3 linked regions of the Homo sapiens genome follow. The protein of the gene in region 1 binds, or shares a complex with, the protein of each later gene. Links are inferred from orthologs where the notes say so. Each region holds a gene or a part of one and is shown in the gene's direction. Other genes may lie near its edges. The genes, in order: DDN, MAGI2 and WWC1.

Region 1 (7,729 bases):
TTGCCCAGGCTGGTCTCGAACTCCTGGGCTCAAGCAATATGTCCCCCTCAGCCTCCCAAAGTGCTGGGATTATAGGCATAAGCCGGCGCACCCAGCCCTTATTTCTAATATACTGGGTTGGAGGGGGTATCCAAGGGTGGCTTTGGGTGCCTTGAAAGTTAAGCTGATGGTTCTTTCCTCAGATCACTGAGTTCCCCAAGCCAGAGTTCATGTCCAAGTCTCTGGAAGAGCTACAGATTGGCACCTATGCCAATATTGCTATGGTTCGCACTACCACCCCCGTCTATGTGGCTCTGGGGATTTTTGTACAGCATCGAGTCTCAGCCCTGCCAGTGGTGGATGAGAAGGGTGAGAGATTGGGCAGAAGGAGAGGGAGGGAAGATCCAGGCAAGTCAGGGTGGCTCTGGGAAGATCTGCTTTCCCCTCAGCTTAGCCAGGAGGGTGATTCTATGAGTAGGGGGAGCTTTAGATCCCAGATCCTCCTTACTGAGCTGCCTCTGTCCCCCTAGGGCGTGTGGTGGACATCTACTCCAAGTTTGATGTTATCGTGAGTGATTGTGGAGGGTCTGGGAGGTAGGGAAGTGGTGGGGGGGGGGCACTGTTAAATATGGAGAGGGAGAAGGGAGTCTCTTCTGTGATCTAAGGGTCTTAGAAGCTTCCAGGCTTTCAAATCCTATTTGAAAAGGAATTGAATGAGTTGGGTGTGGCTTGTGGCTGACAATTGCCCTGAATCCCTCTGTTGAGGTTGGATGGGTTCAGGGTTTGGAGGCTGGCTCTCTTGCTTCCCTGCAAGCTCCTTCCTCTGTCTCCCCAGAATCTGGCAGCAGAAAAGACCTACAACAACCTAGATGTATCTGTGACTAAAGCCTTGCAACATCGATCACATTACTTTGAGGGTGTTCTCAAGTGCTACCTGCATGAGACTCTGGAGACCATCATCAACAGGCTAGTGGAAGCAGAGGTAGGGAGGCCAGCAACCCTAAAGGAGCTGAGGGGAGCAGCCTTGAGAGTGGGGTTTGGCAAGGAGAGTAGGGGCAGAGGGGCTTCCCCTGAGGCCAGCACTAAACATTCCCTTTCTCCCTTGTTGCTCTGTGCCAGGTTCACCGACTTGTAGTGGTGGATGAAAATGATGTGGTCAAGGGAATTGTATCACTGTCTGACATCCTGCAGGCCCTGGTGCTCACAGGTGGAGAGAAGAAGCCCTGAGCTGGGGGAAGGGGTCATGCAGCACCAGGGGATATGCCCAACTCACTGCCTGCTGGAAGCTCTGTGGGAATCAGATGAAACTTGAGGGAATTGTGACTCTGTTCCCTGTTCAGGGTCCCCTGCCCTTCTATCTGGGAGCTAGGGAAGGTATGGGGGAGGAAAGAGAATGGATTTATAGCTACCCTTACCCTCACACATACACTTGAAAAAACTTTCAGCCTAGCCAGTTCTAGCCCCTGTCCTCTTAGATATATCCCCCTTTCTGGGTGAACTATAGGCTCTGTGCCTCTCAGACAAATTCTGATCTCTAAGAGATCCCCAGACCTCACTTGCCTCTGCCTCCATCTTGGCCCTGATTCAACCCTAAGATAATAGCACAACAAAATTCTTCATAAAGATATTTTTATTCACCTGTTCCGTGCTATATGGAGGAGGCCAAGTCCATTTAGTGACATTTCTTCCCATAATGTGAGTGGGGAGGATTGTGGGGAGGAGGGGCTTTGGGTTCCTGTGTTTGTGCATATGAAGGGAGATGGGGGTTAGGTGGAGGAGGAGAGCAGCGTGGTTAGCTAAGGTTATTGCTTTTTGTGGCAAATCTAATTAAATGACAGGAATCTCTTCACGATATTGCAGTGTTTGATTTTTACAGTTGATGGGTACTACCTTCCTACTTTATATGGCTTCTTCAACTGGTCATTAACAATAATAATAACGTGTGTACGCACACACACACGTACACACACACGAGTAGACAGACTTGAGGGTCTCCTTTGGGCAGAGAATCCTGCCACCATTATCAGCTTTTCTTAGTTGGGGAAGGTTGGACTGTTTGGCTTTTGCTGAGTTGGCACTATCTTTTTTTTTTTTTTTTTTTTTTTTTTTGAGATGGAATCTCACTCTGTTGCCCAGGTTGGAGTGCAATGGCGCAATCTCAGCTCACTGCAACCTCCGTCTCCCGGGTTCAAGTGATTCTCCTGCCTCAGCCTCCTGAGTAGCTGGGACTACAGGCGCGCGCCACCACGCCCAGCTAATTTTTGTATTTTTTAGTAAAGACGGAGTTTCACCCATATTGGCCAGGCTGGTCTCGAACTCCTGACCTTGTGATCTACCTGCCTCAGCCTCCCAAAGTGCTGGGATTACAGGCATGAGCCACCGCACCCGGCCAGCACTATCTTTAAACCTACAAATCCCTTGCCTCTTCCAAGGTGAGAATGAGCTGGATGGTGGGAGAACAGCAGGGCAGTGGTCACTCCATCAGATCCATTCCCTGTATTGAAAGCATGTAGACCCAAACAGCAGTCAGCACCCAACATCAGAAGAACTGCTAGACTGGAGTATGAGCTAAATTTGGGTGCCAGCTCACCCCAGCCTTGCAGGTATGATACAGTTTCCCATCCAAGCCAGGAGCAATTTCGGAGTCATTCCTTGCCCCTGCCCCACAGTGCCTAACCCCTCTGATAACCCTCCAGCCAGGGCATACTGGGTTCTCCTGATGGAACACAGGGAAAAGCATCAAGGCCCTCATCAGATTCGACCTGAGGAAGCTTATTTTAAAAAAAGAAGGTGGCCCTCATCAGAGCTCAGCTTTCAGTGTTGCATCATGGCTGTGGAGGAGCCCCTGCTTCTGCCTTCACCCCTTTACAGCTCTCACAGCACATTCTCAACCTTGGGGGAGGAAGGCTTCCAAGTTATTAGAATTAGAGTATGTTTATGTGTCAGGAGGGTAAGCACATGGTGGAAAGGACAGATGGCCCCTTATGTCACATTCCCTCATTAAGGAAGATTTGCCTAGGGAGGAGGCAAGGGCTTTAAAAAGCCTCAGGACTCTAGTGGGACCTAGGGTGGAAGGAAGCATCTTCGAGTCAAGTCATCAGTGCAGCTGGCAGGTGTGTGGAATCAAGGGGGGTAGGGTGGATGGGACGGGATGTTTGCGTTCTCTCTAAAGGTTTGTGTTAGGGAGCAGAGACCTGGTTTTGTTGAGTTGTTTCTCAGTCTGTCAGTCTCTGCCCCACAACCTTTCTGGTTGTTCCCCATCCCCTTAAAAGGAAGGGTCTGGACCCAAAGGGCTCCATGTACATTAGTGGAAAACTAATTGGGAACTCTTGCTTCTCCCATTTCCCTCTAAAACCCAACCTATCCGTCTCAGTGTGAGGATGAAGCTGAGGGAGAGACAAGGGATGAAATTTGGGAGACTCACAAGCTTCTATTCTTACCTATTCCTCTCCAGAGAGGCAAATTATCCCTTCTTCCCGAGGAACCATGCCCCACACACTCTCCCCTCTCTCTGCACTGCTCCCCTCCACTGAAGCTGCTGCCATGGTTGCCAGGCATGGTTGCTAAGTCTCTGCATGGAAGGGTTGGCGTGGGCTGTGCTGCCACTAACATTACCATGGTGAATCAGGGGACACCTGGTATAAGCTTAGGAGGAGGGATCATGTGGATATAAGCAACAGCCCCCCAGGACAGAGGCAGCCCAAAAGGTGAGCATCTGGAGCACCACTTAAGGTGGGGACTGAGTGAACTAGGCATTGTGGTGGTGGTGAGGGGGAGTTCTACATTGAAAAAAATAAAGGCCACTTTTATCATTTCAGTTGCTAGGGGATTAGTTTTGCCAAGCAAACACATCATTTCTCCTCCATCCCCCTCTGGAAGGGTGAGAGTGCATAAGCACTTACTCTGTCCTCCATAAAGCTGGGCAGGCTGTGTGGGCACAGAACAATATAACCCCCAAATCCTGGCTTCTGGATTGGAGGTGAAAGCCTGCTGCTGTGGGAGGGCTCCCTGGCTGCCCAAGGACAAACATGTAGAATGGAACTGGTAGGGCAGCTTGGGTGGCCAAGGCAGACGCCTGTGTCCTGCTGTACCAGCAGTCCTAGGCTGCAGCACTGAGCTGACAAGGAGATACGGGTGTAGGGGTCACCCTTTTTGAGCTTAGGGAAGGCAGCTCTCCCTCAGAGTCGCACAAAAGCTTGGTAAAAGCCACCGCCTCCTCTCTCCACCGCATGGGAGCTGGTTACTCATCTCATCTCTGCACCCGAACAGCCACTGCCGCTAAAAATAGCCCCCCAGCCGTGGGCCAGCCCCTCCTGCACCCCAGCCCCATGGAAACCAGCAGAGTGGCAGGCAGAGACCTTGAGTTCCAATCTCATCACTCTATGTTGGGGAAACTGAAATCTGAGGCAGGAAGCCAGGGGCAGAACCCTGGTGGTCAGGCAACCTGACAAGCAGGAGAGTAAAGGGTTAAAACGGCAGGAAGGTTGAAGAAATAGGGGCGGGGGAGGGGGCACTGTCAGCTTGGCAAGAATCATAAGTCCCTCCCCCGCCCACTCGTGCGATCCCATCAGGCTTGGGGGACAACAGCAGTGGGAAGGGGCGTCCAATCCCGGGCCCCAGGGGGCGGCCGTGCACATGGGGGAGGTAGCAGCGCGGAGCAGTCCGCGCGGTGTCACATGCGCGCGCACACACAGAGACAGGCACACACACGTGTGCCCGGGTATATATAGTTCCCAGTCCCCGGGCCCGCGGCTCTGCAGTGGGCGCCGGCTCCCTGGGCTGGGAGGGGGCTCCTGGGGCGGGTGGGAGGGTGGGGGGCCGGGGTGGGGTGGGGCAGGATGCTGGATGGCCCACTGTTCTCCGAGGGGCCTGACAGCCCCCGGGAGCTCCAGGATGAGGAGTCTGGCAGCTGCCTCTGGGTGCAGAAGTCCAAGCTATTGGTGATAGAAGTGAAGACTATTTCCTGTCATTATAGTCGCCGCGCCCCTTCTCGACAGCCCATGGACTTCCAGGCCAGCCACTGGGCTCGCGGGTTCCAGAACCGCACGTGAGTGAAGCAGGGGTGAGGGGAAGAGAGTGGTGGGGCGGGGAGTGGGGTCCGGACCTCCCCGCAGGCACCAGCGAGCACTGCTGGTCCCCCTTCTCTTTCCCACGCCTTCCACCTCTGCCCGCTCCCGAGGGCTGGGGCCTGACTCATCCCGTTGTTTGGGGGAACAGAAGTGGGTGTGAGAAAGGGCAGGAGGTGAGATGGGGCAGACGCTGTTAAAGTGTGCATGGAGAGATGGCGAGGAGTCCCGCTTCGACTTCAGTCCTAACATATACGCACGTGCACACGCGCACACACTCACACACACCCCTTCACATGGCTGCCCCAAGTGGTCTCCAGTGCTCCCAGCTCCCCGGACCTCGGCTCCCTTCCCCCACAAACTGCTCACCTGGGTTCCTGCTCATTGTCCCAGGTGTGGGCCGCGCCCGGGATCCCCACAGCCGCCGCCCCGCCGGCCCTGGGCCTCCAGGGTGCTGCAGGAGGCGACCAACTGGCGGGCGGGGCCCCTGGCCGAGGTCCGAGCTCGGGAGCAAGAGAAAAGGAAAGCGGCGTCGCAGGAGCGGGAGGCCAAGGAGACCGAGCGAAAAAGGCGCAAGGCTGGTGGGGCCCGACGGAGCCCCCCGGGTCGACCCCGCCCGGAGCCCCGCAACGCCCCTCGGGTGGCCCAGCTGGCAGGGCTCCCTGCTCCCTTGCGGCCGGAGCGCCTGGCGCCTGTGGGGCGAGCGCCCCGTCCATCCGCGCAGCCGCAGAGCGACCCAGGGTCGGCGTGGGCGGGGCCCTGGGGAGGTCGGCGGCCCGGGCCCCCAAGCTACGAGGCTCACCTGCTGCTGAGAGGTTCTGCCGGGACCGCCCCACGACGCCGCTGGGACCGGCCGCCACCCTACGTGGCTCCACCTTCTTACGAAGGCCCCCATAGGACCTTGGGGACTAAGAGAGGCCCCGGGAACTCTCAGGTGCCCACTTCATCAGCCCCAGCTGCGACTCCAGCCAGGACAGACGGAGGGCGCACAAAGAAGAGGCTGGATCCTCGGATCTACCGGGACGTCCTCGGGGCTTGGGGTCTCCGACAGGGGCAAGGTCTCTTGGGGGGATCCCCAGGCTGTGGAGCGGCCAGAGCAAGGCCAGAGCCCGGCAAGGGGGTCGTGGAGAAAAGCCTGGGGCTGGCTGCTGCTGACCTGAACAGTGGTAGCGACAGCCATCCCCAAGCCAAAGCTACAGGGAGCGCAGGCACCGAGATAGCTCCTGCGGGGTCTGCAACTGCGGCTCCCTGTGCCCCGCATCCCGCTCCCAGATCCAGGCACCACCTCAAGGGCTCGAGGGAAGGGAAAGAAGGAGAACAGATCTGGTTTCCCAAATGCTGGATTCCCTCCCCTAAAAAGCAGCCGCCCCGCCATAGCCAGACACTCCCCAGACCCTGGGCTCCCGGAGGCACCGGATGGAGAGAATCTCTGGGTCTTGGAGAGGGGGCAGGACCGGAGACCCTGGAGGGTTGGAAGGCGACCCGCCGTGCCCACACCTTGCCCCGCAGTTCCCAGGGCCTGTCCCGTGGGGAAGGCGTCTTTGTCATTGACGCCACGTGCGTAGTGATACGATCCCAATATGTTCCAACCCCCCGAACCCAGCAGGTGCAGCTTTTGCCCTCTGGGGTGACACGCGTGGTGGGGGATTCCCCCAGCCAATCGAAGCCCGGCAAGGAGGAGGGTGAAGGGGCCACGGTCTTTCCTTCCCCTTGTCAAAAGCGGCTGTCGAGCAGTCGCCTTTTACACCAGCCCGGCGGGGGCCGCGGGGGCGAAGCTGAGGGCGGGAGGCCGGGGGACTCCACACTGGAGGAGCGCACTTTCCGCATCTTGGGGCTCCCGGCCCCCGAAGTAAACCTGCGGGACGCCCCCACGCAGCCAGGTAGCCCAGAGCACCAAGCCTTAGGCCCAGCAGCTTCGGGAGCCCAGGGCAGAGCCGAGGGGTCGGAAGTGGCGGTGGTCCAGCGGCGCGCCGGCCGGGGCTGGGCGCGGACCCCAGGGCCCTACGCCGGGGCCCTGCGAGAAGCCGTGTCCCGTATCCGCCGCCACACAGCCCCTGACTCGGACACGGACGAAGCTGAGGAGCTCAGCGTCCATAGCGGCTCCTCTGATGGAAGCGACACAGAAGCCCCGGGCGCCTCCTGGCGGAATGAGAGGACCCTGCCCGAGGTTGGAAACAGTTCGCCAGAGGAAGATGGGAAGACAGCGGAACTGAGCGACAGTGTCGGGGAGATCCTAGATGTCATAAGCCAAACCGAGGAGGTCCTCTTCGGGGTGAGGGACATCAGAGGGACCCAACAGGGAAATAGGAAGAGGCAGTGAGAGGCCCCTTCTTGTATTTGTGTCCCCAACGCATCCATCCTTGGGTCCACTGGTCCCCATTCTTCCCCACAGACTTCCTTTGCTTCTCTTTTCCTTGTATCTTTACCCATACCTGTTCTCATCCTTGAAATATAAATGAAAGGAAGGGAAGCATATGCCCATTAATGATTTTGTTTCAGGAGAGGTGAGAATGAGCAGATTTAATTAATGTCTGTTATGTTCAGGGCACAAGGGTGAGCTCTTCGCAGGGGCTGATGCACTGGGTGTGGAGCTGAGCAGAGAGGCCTAACCAGGATCAGGCAGGAGGGCAGGGATGGTGGCAGCCATAGGAGGGCAGGGTAGGGTAGGGCCTCTGAGGAGGAGG
Region 2 (8,377 bases), on another chromosome or scaffold:
TGAAATTTTGGACACCCTCACTTCAGGCACATCTGCTATCAGGCAAAATTCTACTCAGCTTTTACACTGTGTCAGACAATGTGCCAGACACTAAGAATGCAAATAAAACATAGAACCTGAAAAGTTGTGTTTCTTCAAAGGATACATGGAGACATAAATAAAAGCTGTGTTGATAACAGAAATAAGAGTCATAAAATGCTTCCAAGAAAGAAAGTGGGCTCAGAGGTATTTCTTTCAGGGTGAGCAGGTGTAGACCAGGGAGGGAAAGAGTTGTATTTCAGGCAAACACAAGCCATGAAATGGCCTAGTGAGAGAAGGAAAGTAAGCCGTTCAACTCTGGAAGAAGTAAAGGGTTGAAAGGAGAAGTGAAGACACAGGCCTGACCCTTAGGTAGGACCCCTGGCTCAGCTGTCCCAGTCCCCAGACATGGTGGGAGATTGACTCAAGTCAATGTACCTTACTGCCCTTACCTGAACATCATTACATTTCAATGTTGAAATTCCTGTTTTTAATTATATTCCAAGGGACCTAGAATAGATGGCATAAAGGGGCCTCCTTTCAGTTGTGTTAATCTTGGAGAACCCACATTAGCTTTGTTGCCCTGGGTTCCAATCTCAGAAGTACATGGAGAAATATGGCTGAACAGTTAAAAAGGGTGGAAAGGAGGATCCAAGCAAGATAAGGAGTTTGGACTTTGCTGTGTATTTCATGGGCGGCACTGGGGGGTTTTAAACACAGAAAAAAGGAGAGGTTTCAGAAAGGTCTCTCTGGCATCACAATAGAGATTTTTGAGGTAAAAGACAGGGAGAAAGAAAAACAAACAACAATAATCGTGGAGTAGTGATATTGACAGACTGAACTAAGAAACAGTGTGGATAAGAAACTTTATGCTCTACAGTACTGCAGTCAGCAGAATAATGGTCCCTCTAAAAAAGGTACCACAACTCTATCTCTTATTAGTAGTGTGATTTGGGGCAATTTAAAAGCCCTGATCCTCAGTTTCCTCATCTGTAAAAGAAAAAAAAAAAAGAATAGCAATGTCTTAAGTCAGGATCCCCAGGATCAAACCCTGAGATGAAGATTGTCTGCAAGTGATTTATTATAGAAATGCTACCAAGAAAAACTCATCAGGTACCACAGTAAGCAAGATAGGGAAGAAGGTGGTTTCAGGCAAAATATTAACATCAATATAATTCTATAGGGGAGCCTCAGGGTGTAAATTACACCTCAGGTTTTCTTGCTACTAGAGGCAAGACGGCTGGTCTTTTATACTCTATAGGAAAGTCCTTGGCAAAGGGTATCCTGGGAAAGAAGTAAACTTGCAGGTGGTTCTGTCTGGCTCTCTATGCCAGTACACAAAGTGAGTCTAGTAGTGTTTGGGCCTTCCTCCAAAGAGATTCTCGGGGCAGGCTGTGAGAAGTAAAAGAACACAGAAGCTAGAGGAAGGATACTCAGATTCAACCAAAGGGATCCTAGGAGATCTGGGTGGAGACTATGTCTGCCACAAGCATCTATCTCATAGAACTCTTCTAAGAACTGAATGCATTCATATCTTTCTTTCTTTGGCTTTTAGGATTCCTAAACTATTTTTCTTCTGGAATAGCATGCAATATTTAGCACTCTGCTCTACACTCAGAGTGCTCAGTGATGAAATAATTTTTTCTTGACATAGCATCAAATCCAAAAAGGGTAAAGGCAGTGGAGAAATTAAGCGAATATGAGGAATACCATAAGAGAAAGAAAAAAAATCTGATCCCAATTTCTGACTCCAAGGATAGTGCTTTCCTCAGGGTTCCACTTTTATCAGTTAAGATCCAGTCAAAGGGTATTGACTATTAGGACAGGAAAAAATCCCACTAAAGAATACAGTAATAGTGGTTATTGGGAACAGCCACTATCTCTCAGGCTCTAGGAGAGTACCCAAGGAGGGAATAACTGAGTAGAACTTCCCCCTACCCACCCTCCACCCTACTAAGCCTGAAAGTAGGCGCTCATTGGAAATAATATGGCTGTGGTCCACTTAATGATCCAGAAATTTAAGGTGTCACACACTGGGCTGCTGAGGAAACCATCAGCTGTGTTTTCAGTAAAACTTGCTAGGAAGCCATTCCACTGACATGCCAGTGGTACTCCATAGAAAGACACATACTAGGGAACTGGCCAAATTTACTGAAGATTATGTAACATGGCCTTCTTGCACACCACTGGTCAGAAAGTCACTCACTGGCCACCACACCGTAGGAGCAAGCAGGAAAGCACTGGAACCAAGAAAAGGAGCCCCTTTCTTTCTGCAGTGTTCCCCTAGCACCTTCTATTGACAAAGCTAAACACTGTGCCAACTGACCATAAAGACGTTTACAGATTTCAGCTCTAATGTCACAATTTAGGGCAAAGAAGGGTAGCTGTGAAGTTGAAGAGCACTAAGTTAACTGGCACTGACCTCAGTGACACTCCTGGGATTTGGGGGATGGGAGGAGCATGCTGTTATGCCCAAATCCTGCTCCGTTTGTTTACTTTTTTCCTAATTGTCTCTGAAAGAAAGAGCAGGCCCAATCTTTTGGGACACTATGTAGTGAGAACTGGTATGACACATCGTAAGTGCACAGAGAGTTCAATTCAGTAACTGAGACAAAGTCTAGAGCCGAACCACTTGGGTCTGAACGTTAGCTTCACTATTAACAAGATTTGTAGCCTTGCAAAAGTTCATCCTTGTATACCTCAGTTTCCTTACCTGTAAAAGGAGATAACAGTACCTATTTTATCAAAATGTCAGGAGAAATTAAGTATTATGTGTAAAGCCTATAAAACAACATCTTGCATGTAGTTAGAACCTAATAAATATTAGTATATTCCATGAATGGTAGCTTGTCATTTGGTTTTACAATATGTATATATTCGGTTCTCATGATGAGTTTCCATTTAGAACTATGCCTCATAATGCTAACACTCAACTTCTCTGGGTGAGATTAGGCTTTGCTATCAAGTCTTGCCTACTCCTGGGCATTGCCTGCAGCTCTGGCTTCAGATCCTGGCACTGCCCCTGGCTCACTGAATAAGCTTCAACTAGTGCAGCCAACTTACGGAGGATCTGTTTTCTCAAGTGAAAAAAAGACACAAGGTTAAACAAATCATCTTTTTTTAAGATCTCTTCCAGTTCTGACTACATTTGATCCCCCTCATCCCCAAGTAGTAAGTTATACCTAAGAGGGAAAGAGGAGGGAATTATCATTTCGAACTCCTACTCACCTGTGCCAGGAGAGCACTGCTGTGACTGATTTCCCTGATTTCATCCTCACCACAGTCCTAACAGATTAGTATTGTTAAAGTCCATTTAACAACTAAGAAAGCTGAGGCTCAGGAAGGTCAAGCAGTTTACTCAAGATCATATTCTCAGTAAGCCGCAGAGTCTGGATTGAAACCTGGTCTTTCTGTTTGGGTCGACTCAACATTTTTAACCGTATTGTTTGCCTCCTACATCGCCTTCATCTCAGACATTAAGAATCCTACCTATTCAATGCTTTTCATCCTCCGCTTTAAAGAGATAAGTGGGTGCACAACTTTTTTTTTGCCTGAAACATATCATCTAAAAGTTAAGCAAATGAAATTCATTTACCAGTTACAGGAATCTTTTTCTTAAATCACTGTTAATGTCTCACAGGAAATTAGCTCTTCAGTGGAAATCAGCAGCCTCCCTGCATCCTTTTGCCCCTGTCCTCCCCTCTCTTGGATGCAAACCTGGCGAAAAGAAGGGAACACTGCTTGGGGTCAGCGAGCTGAGTTCCAGCTCCGAATGTACCATTTTCACCCTCGGGAGTCTTCTCCCCTTTCTCTGTGAGCAAAGGAGTGTTGGGCCAGACCGTCTTAAGGATTCTTCCCCAGGTACAAGCCGGACTCTGGCGGCTTTCCTGGGCAAGGGAGTGTCTCCGCCTTGTCTCTGCCGCAGGTCCCTGGTTAAATTGTCAATTTCTCTGCGGAGGCTGCTCACTGCATCCGCTCCCTCCACCCCTAGCCCTGTAGACCCCTTCTCTTTCCCCTACTTGGGAAAAGTGAAGCCCCTTATCCTTGGATAGCCTTTCACCAGACAACCGCAGCCGTCCGCTAAATTCCCCTACTGGCGGGACGCGCGGGCGGGGGCCTGCCCCGGGGAATGCGAGGCTGCTTCCCTTCTGCGTAATCAGGGTACGCAGCCTCCAGTTCTCTAACTTTCTCCTTCTCTAAGAGGGAATTTCGAGAACTTTAAGACAAATAAGTGACTATATAGATGAAGACATGAAACCTCTCTACACAGTGAACTCCCCCACGCTACAAGGCTCCCAGGGATCCCAGGCCTTCTCCCGCAATGCCCCGCCGGGTCCCCCGCCCCAACTCCTTCTCACGGCAGGATCCCGCGCCAGGACGCTCGCAGAGCCCGAGATGTGGCACCAGGCGCGCCACAAGTCCAGGTCCCGCTATTTCTGCTCCATCGGAGCCCAGGTCGGAGGGAGTCAGCGCGTCCTCCTCGCACAGGAGCCTGGCGCGCGGCTCGGTCGCACAGAGGCTGAAGAAAGGTCCGCACTGGGCTCGAGGCCCTTCCTGCCGGCCTCCCCACGCCGGGCCTAGGCTCCCCTCCTTCCCGGCTCCCGCCTCCTCCCGTAGGCTGCCAGGCGGACCCAGCCTGCCTCTCTCTCTGCCTTCACTACCGGGTCAAGCTGCGGAGGGAGGGAGGGAGGCAGCGGCGAAGCCCTCCGTGGCTCCCCACCCGGCGCGCGCGCCCCTCCTCCCCTGCCTCCTCCCGTCTGCCAGTACAGTAGAACTAGTACACACACACACACACACACACACGCACACGCACCCTGCCACTGCAGCTGCCATGGATATCAGCTAACAACACACACCCAGGCGCGCGCGCGCGTTCCCACTCGCACCACGCAGGAGTGGCCCCCGGCATCCCTACCCTCCTTCCCCACCCCCACCACACCCGCTCACCAGCTCGGCTACTGCTCGCTCCGGCTGCCGCCGCCGCCGCCGCCGACGCCACCACCACTGCTTCCTCTGCTGCGGGGCCACAGCCTTGAGTGTCATTCAAGGGACAGCACAACCTCATCCAAGCTCTCCTACCTCTGCCCAGCCGTCCCTCTCATCCTCCCCATTCCTCGTCCACACTCCATCCAAAGAAGAGGGAAAGCACCGAATAGAGGGGGGCGAAGGCAAAGTCTGCTGTTCTTCCCCCTGGGCCCCCTTGCTCCTCCATCCTCATTCTCTCACCACCAGCCCCCCTAACCCCAAGGAGCCCAGGAACTGAGGCGACTCGCCCCACTGCCATGTCCAAAAGCTTGAAAAAGAAAAGCCACTGGACTAGCAAAGTCCATGAGAGTGTCATTGGCAGGAACCCGGAGGGCCAGCTGGGCTTTGAACTGAAGGGGGGCGCCGAGAATGGACAGTTCCCCTACCTGGGGGAGGTGAAGCCCGGCAAGGTGGCCTATGAGAGCGGCAGCAAATTGGTGTCGGAGGAGCTGCTGCTGGAGGTGAACGAGACCCCCGTGGCGGGGCTCACCATCAGGGACGTGCTGGCCGTGATCAAACACTGCAAGGACCCCCTCCGGCTCAAGTGTGTCAAGCAAGGTGAGAGCAGCGGCTTGCTCAGTGTTTTGCCGGGCGGTGGGACCGCTCGGGGCGCAGGGCAATGAAAGGGTGGCCGCGCATGTTGAAGGGGGTGTGTTGCGCGATGATGGGGTGGGGGCCAGAGAGCACCCGCAGTGCAAGTGAGTTTCGCCGGGGATTCGACTTGGGGGCTAAAGGGAGGGGAGGGGCAGGTTGTGGTGTGGCGTGCAACTTTGTTTGCTCAGTTAGACCCTCCCCTTTGGAAGGTGCTCGGCCTGGTCTGACCTCCTCAGAGCTGCTGGGGCAAATTGAATGTGCGTCAGTGGCATCACCCGAAGCGGATGAAGAGCTTTTGGGGAAGGGAGGAAGGAAGAAAAGAAAGAAAGAATGGGAGGAAGGGAGGGAAAGAAGGAAGGAGCAACTTCAGGGTGCAGCGGCATCACCAGCGGGTCTGGGAAGAGAAGGTGGTGGGGTGAGCGGAGAACTGCGTCCAGCGTTTCTGGGGCTGGGCTGGGGGCGCCTGGGTCCCCAGCTGTCCCTTAGGGATCCGTGAGCCACCGCTGGCGAAGAAAAGAAGGGACAAATTGCTTTGGGCGCTTTGACGGGTCTTCTGTAACTTTTCCCCTTCTTCACTCCGTGTCCCCCTCCCCCGCTCACGGTCGTGTCATGTGGGCATCGCGCGTCACGTGCGTACTGACTAACCCCTGCGCTCACCCCTAGCCAGCCCGGGGGAGGAGGCTCCGGAAGAAGGCGCGGTGCTAGGAGCGCAGTCTAGTGCTGGGCGGGGGTCGGAGGAGATGAATGGTTGTCGGAGGAGATGAATGGTTGTCCGCATGGACTTTACTCAGGGGTTGCCCTCATTGAGTGGAAGTCCTCTGTGGTTGGGCTCTCCTCTGGCTCCGATTTGGGGGGCGTGTTTTGGGGGAGGAGCTGGATGAAACCCTGGCCGGTTCCAGCCCAGGCTCCCTCAGCTCCAACCTGACTTAAATGAACCTCAATTGGAGGCTGTGATGTGGATTTGGGGAGATTGGAATCATCCAGAACTCCCTGTCTTTGCTCGAAAGAAAATTATGGTGCAGAAGGAGAGAAGAGTGAGATAAAAGTTTGAATAGAGGACAACTTTAAGTAGAATAAAGTAGTAGCTTTTTTCTTTTCTGTTTTCTTTTTTAGCTCACTGCACAATTCGTGTGCGGTATGTATGGATATTTGCGTCACAGGCATATTAGCATAAGGGTTTGTTGTTGTCGTCGATGTACACTGTTTGTCCTGACTCAAAGGTGGAATTGAGCATGTCATTACCTGCATTTTGCCGCTTAATCATGATCAACTACTAAGAAATGCTTTTACGGAGATGTACCGCACTGTTAAATTATTCTCTAAAAAACTTGTTTTAAAATAAACAAGATAAAAAGAAGTACTGGGCAAGGTTTCTTAAATGTAAATTGCCATACAAGAAAATGTTTTCCTTGGGTATTCTTGAGTATTAAGAGGTAATAAATTGAGATAGGTTATTATAAGTCAACATAGCTCCATACTATTTAACACTGAAGGGATATGAGTTTGGTAGGAAGGAAAATAGAGTAACTTGATATTTTTGAAGATAAGATACCTAAGGTTCAAATACAGAGATTCATGTTAACATGTTCGATGTCAAAATACCACCTTATAGGAATAGACATAAATGGAAAGATCTTTGGGTACGAAAAGTCTACTACACAACTAATGACCATGGTTTTGTTGGCCAAATGCTTGATATTTGTCATGGAACGTGGCTGCAAAAGTTAAGCGTTGTTAAATTGGACTTAATAGAGTCCCACAAACGGATGCCCTATTATAGTTTGCAATGATCATCACATCTTAAATGTTGTGTTCAATTCTGAGCACTCCTTGTTGAGGCGGACGTTGGCAAACTGTCACGCTAGCAAAGAGTAAGTTCAAAAGAGAAATAAAGGAAGATTATTGTGTATTATAGATGTATTCTATGAAATGCCGTGGAAAGACTTAACGTGGAGAAGTGAAAGAATGAAAGCTATCATTAAATAGCGAAAAGCTATCAGGTAAGAAAAGGAATTCTGACTATCCTGTGATAGCCCACAGGACAAAATGGTGATAAATCTATGAGAAATTTGAAAGGATGAAGCAGCTTTACTTTCATTAAATCATGAGCTTTCTAACAGAGTTTTCCAAAAATTTGTGAGCACCCTGTTGGCTGAAGTTCCCATCATTGTGGGTATCCATGAAGAGGCTGAAATGACCATATGCCAGGGATTCCTATATAAGATGAGGACCTGGATTAGATATTATTTGAATCTTGCCATAATTTGATCTAATGTGGTTGGAGATCACTCTTGTATTGAATTTTATGTGGAAGATTATTGCTTTTAGAACTCAGAATATATGCTTCTAAAGTGATATATTGAGGGGAAAGTCTCTTTTCATTCTATATTAACCCTCAGTTTCGTGCTTCACTGGTTCATTGATGATAAATTTGTATAATGATAGCCAGAGAGCCCACAGTTGGTTCATCTCCTGAACCACTGCTGACCAAAAACAAAACAAAACAAAATATTTCTTTTACCTTTTGTGGAATAATTAATTCTCTTGTATATTCTTTTAAATATGATTCATGTTGCTATTCTAATAATTCTTTTCCTCGTCAAATCATAGATTAATTTTATTTATGATTATAAAAAATGAAATTTTTCAGAACCTTTACTATAGTGCCTGTGTGTCTTAGGTTTCAATACAGATGTCATTTACTGGAAAATCATTTAGAAACTCTTGGCCCAGTAGTTAT
Region 3 (7,873 bases), on another chromosome or scaffold:
TCAACTCTGCCCTCTCATTGTCAGCTCAGCTGTGACCAGTTTTAGCATGCCCTCATCAACCTCCATGGCCTCCTCCATCCACTCCAAATAGACGCACAACCCAAACATAAGTAGGAGTTTAAGGAGAGTCTCCTGGCCACCCCACCTCCTTTCCCAACCAGACCATGGCCCTGAAATCTCTCCTTCACAGGCACTCTAAAGCCCACACTGGGAGTCCAGAAGCAAAAACTCACTAGAAGCAGCTAAGTTGATATCTACATGACTACAGAAAAGTCACTTTGCCTCTCTGAATCTCAGTTTGCTCATCTATGAAATGGAACCAGCAGGAACTAGGGCAGTAAATCATTATTCACACAAACTCCATTTCTCTGTTTGTAAAATGAGTAGGCTGTGCAAGACTTGTTTCAGTTGATTTCCCAGCACTGAATTAAGCACGGAGGACCGAGAGGTAAATAAAAAACCATCTCTTCTGCCTCGGCTCTCGTGTTACCAAGGTTTCTTCCACCCTCATTTTCTCTGGCTTAGGACGTGTTTTCCCATCATTGGAAAAAAAGAGTCCACAGTACATTTATGAACCTCAAATAATGCATGACTCAAGAAAGGGGACATTATTGGCTCCATCATAGAACATAACTGTGCATTCCCCAGGATGTGTGGGAGGGACGGCATGAGGTAGGGAGGTAGAGTCATGGAGCAGGAAGCAAAATCTCAGCAGAGGTTCTCAAAGCCTCAGTTTCCCCTGAAGAATGCAGATGCGAACAGGAAACTGGACTTGCTAACATATCTGTTCCTTTGTTTTATATTTAATTTCTCCTCTTTACCATCTTCATGGAATATGTGACTCTGGCTCTCTGAAACACTCTAAAACACGTGTGGATAACGGCCTTTCTTCCCTGCAGTTGCAGTGGAGAAAAGGGTTCAAGTGCGCATCGTTTTTAAAAACAAGACAGCCTGTCTCAGGCTCAGGTGATTCCTCTGGGCCACCGGGATGTGGCCTTTGTCATTAGAAAGGCTTGGCCTGTGGTCACTTCTGCACTGCCCAACACTGCCCAAGCCTGTCTCCTTCAACTCCACACGCGGGCAGCCAGACGCAGCCCCAGGAGGGTGGCCAGGAGAGGGCTGGGCTTCTTGTCTTCAGTTCGGATTCCTGCAGTTCAGTCACCTGTAGAGTAACGTCCAATTCAGCCTATCATGTGGCTGAGCCGGTTTTACCTTTAATCTCTTTCACGTTTGCCCTCAGCCTCGCAGAATGTCCGGGATGATTCACGCGCCATCACATGGGGCAGGCAGTCATCTGTTTTATTACCTCACCCTGCTTGCCGCTTCTGCGAGATAACCTGGGATTCTTTCGTTGGGGGTGGATGGGAGGTAAAAAGAGCGAACAGACCTAGGCCTTAATTCAGGAGTCAATTCCTGCTCTGGTCTCTCTTTCTTGCTTCCCAGGCCAGGTCAAAAGGTCCAAAGAAGCAAGCCATTTGGAAAATGCCAGGGTTTGGGTGGCTGGACTAAAACGAAAGTGGGACTTGGCAGTCTAAAAGGTGTTTTCTCTTCACAATCAATGCCAACCAGTAAAAAGGCTTGGTTGAAAAATAAGGCCAAAAAAAAAAAAATCAGCAATTAGGAGGACTGTTGCAAGCAAGCAGGCATAATTTTCAGAAGGGGAAAGGACGTGGATTTGTGTTTTGAACAGAAAATACTTCAAATGGTCCACATTTCATAGAGGTGTGTCTGCTGCCAGGCACGGTGCTCCGAATGCACCGCACCACAGCCCCTGAGATGAAGGCGTGCTGCTGAGTGCCAAGCCCTCACATTTCTCCTCCTGCTTTGCCCTAACCACAAGCCCAAAGGAGTCCATATTGTTATGTGATTTTTTTTCAAATCAAAGACTGAGACTTCAGTGAAGCAAGCTGCCCAAGGTCACACAGCTAGAAAACCGGGTGGGCTTGGGACCCAAACAGCCTGATTCTAGAGCTCTTGCTTCTCAACCAAAAAACTATGAAGCAAACATCAACAGAGATGAACATTTGTCAGTATCAGTCATGTTCCACATCCCAACCATGGGGAAGTTCTGAGGCTGCAGAGTGATTTAAAAAAGAAAGAAAGTCTCCAATCTGGGTGACAGAGCGAGACTCCGTCTCAAAAATAAAAAGAAAGAAAGAAAGAAAGTCAGCCAGGCAAGGTGGCTCATGTCTGTAAGCCCAGCACTTTGGGAGGCTGAGGTGGGCGGATCACCTGAGGTCAGGAGTTCGAGACCAGCCTGGCCAATATGGTGAAACTCCAGCTCTACTGAAAAATACAAAAATTAGCTGGGCGTGGTGGCGCAGGCCTGTAATCCCAGCTACTCTGGAAGCTGAGGCAGGAGAATTGCTTGAATCTGGGAGGCAGAGGTTGTAGTGAGCCGAGATCATGCCACTGCACTCCAGCCTGGGGGATGGGGGGAGACTCCATCTCAAAAAAAGAAAAAAAGAAAGTATAGGTTAATAACTGAGAACACTGCACTAGAGTCAGACCTAGTCTGTCTTATGAGCTCTGTATCCCAGGCCAACAACAAAGCATCTTGGAGCCTCATCTGTAAAATGGGTATAATAAATAGACTTTCCTATGCCAGAGGGTTGTTATGAAGATTGAGATCATGTATTCAAAGAACCTAGCACCAGGTTGGCTTTGCTTTGGGGCTACTGCTCTAATCAATAGTGGGTTTTTATGTAGTAAAGGCTTGACCCAAACAGAGGAAGTGTAGAGGGCTGTGGGAATTCCCCCATAAAGGAATGGGGAATTCCAACTTTTGGGTGTTGAGGGCCAGTCTGAGGCTGGTGTCCCTGGACTCTGGTGCCTGGTATTTATGGAATGAAGGAGGGCCAAGCACTGAGCCCCGAGGCCTGGCCTCAGGGAAGGAATTAACTATGAAGAAGGCATTTGGAGGCGAGGCTCACTCTGGTGGGTCTTTTCTGTCAAGAGGAGATGAGACCACAAACATGATTCCCTCTCTGGCTCAGCAACACCCTGGTCCATACAGCACAGGGTGCTGGTTCTTCTGGAAGACCGTGGGGCTCAGGCAAGAGAAGACACCCAACTGGGCTTCATTCGACCAGTCCAGCTTCCTGCCATATGCCGAGGGCAAAAAAGGGTTAAATTCCCACTCAGTACACAGATGTAAGAGGAGATGGGGAAGTGAACAGCCAGTTGATCATTCACTCAATCATGCTAGCTTGCTTTTTGTATTTAATGCTACATTTTAAATTTATTTATTTATTTATTTGAGACAGAGTCTCGCTTTGTTGCCCAGGCTGGAGTGCAGTGGTGCGATCTTGGCTCACTGCAACCTCCACCTCCCAGGTTGAAGTGATTCTCATGCCTCAGCCTCCCGAGTAGCTGGGACTACGGGCGTGCACCACCACGCCCAGCTAATTTATTATTATTATTTTTTAGTAGAGATGGGGTTCACTATGTTGGCCAGGCTGGTCTGAAATCCTGACCTCAGGTAATCTGTCTGCCTCACCCTCCCAAAGTGCTGGGATTACAGGCGTGAGCCACCGCACCCACTAATTCTACATTTTTAATTTCTCAAGAAACATTGTGTCTCTGATTGTTTTATTCTCTTGAACATTTTTCAAGATGGAATTTTGCTTTGCTTACTTTCTTCTTTTTCATAGCCCCACTTCTCCCAAATCCATAACACACCTACCTCAAAGTATCACAGGAAAGAAAGCCTGTGAAGCTGCTAGCCACAGCCTGTCACAAGTAAGTCCTCAATTTAGCTAACAATAACAATGGCATTACTATTACTTTTACAAAGTGTTTTCCCTGACACCCTCTGGAAGTCCTCCCAGGAAAGCGGATCCACAGCGCTCCTAATTTTAGGGACCCTGAGGGGAGCCAGCTACATTTCCAAATGGTGGGGAAGGGTGGAGGGTGGGCGAAACGTCGTAGGGAGAGTTGAATAGAAGGAGACAGATGGTGCCTGTGTTGGGGGAAGGGACCAGAGATCCTGGAAAACTTATGTTTCCCAATTCGCAAGAATGTTTCCATTTAACCACTTCTTGCCTGACTCCTGATTCTACACCACAGAAAAGCAGGGAGTTTTTAAGATTTGGGGCCACCTGTGCCGAGAGCCTGGCTACTCCGGGTGGAGAGAGACAGGAGCGTTTTAAGTACAGGCAGAGCGGTTTTTGGCCCAGCCCCCTAGGTCTGGGACGCAGGTGAGGGGCGGTCTCTCCTTCCCCTGGCAGGGGCAGCGTAAGGGTGGCCGGCGGCTGGGACTGTCCCACGAGGGGGCGCGTCTCGGGCCCTAGGACCCGCCCTCGAGGCGCTGCGCGCGGGGAGGGGACCCGGGAACCCAGGCGCCCGGCGCTCCGCCTCCCGTTTCCGGGGCAGCGCGGTTACCTGCACCGCCCGAGCCGCACCTGGCGGAGGCAGAAGTCACAAACCCGGCGAGCTCAGAGCGGTGGAGCGGAGAGGAGGGACGGCACCCGGCTGCAGGGAGGAGGGAGGCGGCAGCGGCAGCGGCGGCGTGGAGGGCGCAGCGCGCCGCGCGGCGGAGGAGGGCAGACGGCGGCGGCGGCGGCGCTCGGCTCGCTCTGCCCGGCCGGCTGGGCGCGCACCCGGGCTCGCACCGCGCCGCTGCGGACGCACATGGCAGCGTGAGAGGCCGGCGGCGGGAGGAGCGGGCGGCGCCGGGTCGGGGCTGCAGGGCCGCATGGACAGCGGCGCCACCCCGGCCGGCCCCTACTAGGGCCCCCCATCTGCGGGCGCCACCCCCCGGATCATGGTGCCTCGGCGGCCGCCCGGGCTAAGAGCGGCCGGCTGGAGCCGCTGAGCCCCCGCTGCGGCCGGGAGCTGCATGGGGGAGCGCCGGCAGCGCTTGGGAAGATGCCCCGGCCGGAGCTGCCCCTGCCGGAGGGCTGGGAGGAGGCGCGCGACTTCGACGGCAAGGTCTACTACATAGACCACACGAACCGCACCACCAGCTGGATCGACCCGCGGGACAGGTAGGACCCTGGAACCCTCCTCCGTGCCCCCACACCCCCGCCTGGGCCCCCACCTGCCCCTGGAGCCGCCGGCCGGGACTGGGAGGGGGCAGGGGAGCTCTGCGTGCCTCTTGAGCTCTCTTCAGTTCGCCACCCCCTGCTCCCCCCAACCTTCTGGAGCGCTGCTCCCGCCTCAGTGGGCCACCGAGAGGAGGCGCCTGCCGGGGAGCTGGCCCAGGCTGCCCCACCGCCATCCCCAGTTGGAGGACTTAGGCCCCAGCCGGCACCTGCCCGGAGTTTTGACCTTAAGCTCTAGCCCCGCCCGCCCCCTTTAGGAAGAGAGGTCGGGCGGGGGCGGGGGTTGGGGGAGCGACCTAGCCGGGTGAAGCCGGGTCTTCCCGGGGAGGCTTCCACCCAGCGTGGGGGGTGGGCGGATGGGGATGGGGAAGTGTCCGGTTAGAGGGGGTGGTCAAGACCCCAGGATTCCGTGGGAGACCACTGGAGAGAGGGCACTCGGCGCAGAGGAAGGCAACCTGAGGTGTGCTTTTTGACAGGTGCCTTGGAAGCTGCTGAGAACAGCACAGGGGCAGCCAGGGGGCCCTGGAACCCGAGGGTGGGGAGGAAGTGAAGAAGCGGGGGAGGGCAGATGAGGGAGACTGGTTATCCAGGAATCTGGCAGCAACTTGGAAGCTGTTAGGATGGAGATGGAGGTGAGAGGCCTCCCGGAAAGCCTTGCCCCTCGCCTCTTTCTCCTCTCTTTCTTCCCTGATCGGGGAAGGGGGCGGCGAGGCTCCTCAGCCCTGCACCAGCGGGACCTGACCTTGGTGGGTACCAGGCCGCTGTAGGTTGAGATAATGTGCAGAGGCAGATGGAGCCTGAGATAGCTCGGTGTGGCTCTTACCTCTCCAGACTTTCTCCTGGTTGTTTGGCATTTCTTTGCTCACATGCTGCACACACACACATACATTCACCCTCTCCATGTATGTCCTAGAGTCCCCGGACCACGATGTTGTTGACACGGTCTGTGGGCAGAGTGTCTTGGGGAATGCGGACTTTAAACCTTGTCTGTGACCTTGGGGGTCAGGTCCCTGTAAAGCAACCAAGGTGAATTTCTTGGACTCTTCATCTTGTGTGGTGGGGGTGGAGGTGTCCCAGAAGTGTATGTAGCAAGATGTGGGTCAAAAAAAGAATATAAGCGGAAAGAAAATGAGAGTTGAGATTCTCGGTAGTTTCTGGGAGCACTTACTTTCATTCATTCATTCATTCGTTCATTCAGCGCTTCCTGGATGCCTCCTCTACACTCAGCACCATGCTGAATGTCTCATGAATGTAATCTGGAAGGTAAATATTTAGTGCTAGAGAGCATCTCTTAGGCAAGCTGCTTCAACCTCTGAGCCTCAGTTTCCCTGTTTGTCAGATGGGGGAGCCCACCATTTCCCTGAATTTAAAAAGTTTGCTTGGAAGGGAATATTGGGATGCTTAAAACTTGGAAGGGACGTACATCAGCGCCCAACTCCCATTTGAAACATAAGAGAAAATTTGAAGCCCAGAGGTGTGATTTGCTCAAGTATTTTGATTTTTCTGCCATTCTGCGTACCAGTTCTTCACCAGCTCTGAAGTTCTAACCTGCAAACTTGTCACCCTGACACACTGCTTCCCCACCCTTACTCGGGTCAGTTGCCAGCTCTGCTACTGTGTTGGTGAACTTGGCAGCACCTTTTCTCTTGTCCTTTTCTCAGAACAGACACAAGTTCAAACATATGTGACCTGCCCCAATTTAGGTCCCTGTAGTTTACGGAGGCCTGTGTGCTGTTAGCAGGTGGACGTCCTGTTGGAGGGAAAGGACCGCCCCTGCCAACACTGATAATCATGCATCTGGGGACTTCTAATACAGCAATAGGAGGCCCCTCTCAACAGTAATTCTTTACCCTTGGAAAAGGGTAAGTAAGTAGCTTCTATGAAGAACTGATTGGCTGGAGCACAATCTCCCAAATTTTAGTGTTACATGGACCACCTCCATGATTTTTTTTTGCTATATCCACCTGTGCTATTGCTTACTTACTCCTTGACTTTAGATCAACTCACTTTAAAAATATGTGTACCATTTTCACAAATGGGAAACTAGTTATATCTATTGTCATACAGGGGAAACAAAAAAGATAGGCAAACAAAAAAAACAAAAAACCAGGGTTAGTATATTTTAGCTAGGTACTGTGGCCAGCCTAAGGCCACAGCACCTCACCTGCCCAGCCTTTGTTTTTAAGCAGATTGGCAAGCCATGGAGAGGCGGCAGAAACATAGTGGCACTTAGGTGAGCAGCTCACCTTCTTCATCTTGTGTCATTGGTTTTTTTGTTTGCTTTTGGTTTTTTTGTTTATTTGTTTTTGTTTTTTGGAGACAGAGTCTCGCTCTGTCGCCCAGGCTGGAGTCCAGTGGTGCGATCTTGGCTCACTGCAAGTCTGCCTCCTGGGTTCAAGCGATTCTCCTGCCTCAACCTCCCGAGTAGCTGGGACTACAGGTGCACGCCACCACATCCAGCCAATTTTTTGTATTTTAGTAGAGATGGGGTTTCACTGTGTTGCCCAGGCTAGTCTTGAACTCCTGAGCTCAGGCAATCCGCCCACCTCAGCCTCCCAAAGTGCTAGGATTACAGGCGTGAGCCACCACGCTTGGCCTTGGGTCACTGGTTTATAAACTTCATCTCTGTACCTCCTTGTCATCCCACCTGGACTGGGGTGGTATTGGGCCCCTGAACTTGGGGTCCTGAGGGGGTCTCATGTCAACTCTGGGGGTCACTATTGTGGTCCAGCTTTGTATGTTTTGGAAAAGTGCTAATTGGAGGATAGCCACTTGTGGTTTTCTGGAATTTCCCTCCGGCATACCCCATTTTTGCCTTTTAGTTCTGT

The links.
Region 2: the proteins of DDN (region 1) and MAGI2 are in contact, whole or in part, in a crystal structure (PDB 6KKG), measured with the Mus musculus proteins. The link is inferred for Homo sapiens from one-to-one orthologs. Residues at the interface, in NP_001013763.1 of Mus musculus: Asp222, Arg223, Pro224, Pro225, Pro226, Tyr227, Val228, Ala229, Pro230, Pro231, Ser232, Tyr233, His237, Arg238, Thr239, Leu240, Gly241; in NP_001164217.1 of Mus musculus: Glu308, Met309, Ala310, Tyr311, Thr312, Glu313, Gly315, Tyr318, Ile320, Asp321, His322, Lys325, Thr326, Thr327, Ser328, Trp329, Asp358, Tyr361, Tyr364, Val366, Asp367, His368, Arg371, Arg372, Thr373, Gln374, Phe375.
Region 3: the proteins of DDN (region 1) and WWC1 are in contact, whole or in part, in a crystal structure (PDB 6J69), measured with the Mus musculus proteins. The link is inferred for Homo sapiens from one-to-one orthologs. Residues at the interface, in NP_001013763.1 of Mus musculus: Tyr227, Val228, Ala229, Pro230, Pro231, Ser232, Tyr233, His237, Arg238, Thr239; in NP_740749.1 of Mus musculus: Glu13, Glu14, Ala15, Arg16, Asp17, Tyr23, Ile25, Asp26, His27, Arg30, Thr31, Thr32, Ser33, Trp34.

The regions. Positions count from the first base shown.
Region 1 is NC_000012.12:48,996,376-49,004,104, reverse strand, and holds the start of DDN (dendrin), read left to right. Parts: upstream 1-4,729; 5' UTR 4,730-4,817; coding exon 4,818-5,026; intron 5,027-5,414; exon of another isoform or gene 5,415-5,438; coding exon 5,439-7,365; 3' UTR 7,366-7,729. Other genes in the region: PRKAG1 (5'-AMP-activated protein kinase subunit gamma-1), read left to right, coding at 183-348, 510-547, 815-961, 1,099-1,206. UniProt on the Homo sapiens protein: Promotes apoptosis of kidney glomerular podocytes. Podocytes are highly specialized cells essential to the ultrafiltration of blood, resulting in the extraction of urine and the retention of protein.
Region 2 is NC_000007.14:79,450,244-79,458,620, reverse strand, and holds the start of MAGI2 (membrane-associated guanylate kinase, WW and PDZ domain-containing protein 2), read left to right. Parts: upstream 1-4,953; 5' UTR 4,954-5,300; coding exon 5,301-5,601; exon of another isoform or gene 5,602-5,664; intron 5,665-8,377. UniProt on the Homo sapiens protein: Seems to act as a scaffold molecule at synaptic junctions by assembling neurotransmitter receptors and cell adhesion proteins. Plays a role in nerve growth factor (NGF)-induced recruitment of RAPGEF2 to late endosomes and neurite outgrowth.
Region 3 is NC_000005.10:168,287,284-168,295,156, forward strand, and holds the start of WWC1 (protein KIBRA), read left to right. Parts: upstream 1-4,361; 5' UTR 4,362-4,869; coding exon 4,870-4,988; intron 4,989-5,422; exon of another isoform or gene 5,423-7,873. UniProt on the Homo sapiens protein: Regulator of the Hippo signaling pathway, also known as the Salvador-Warts-Hippo (SWH) pathway.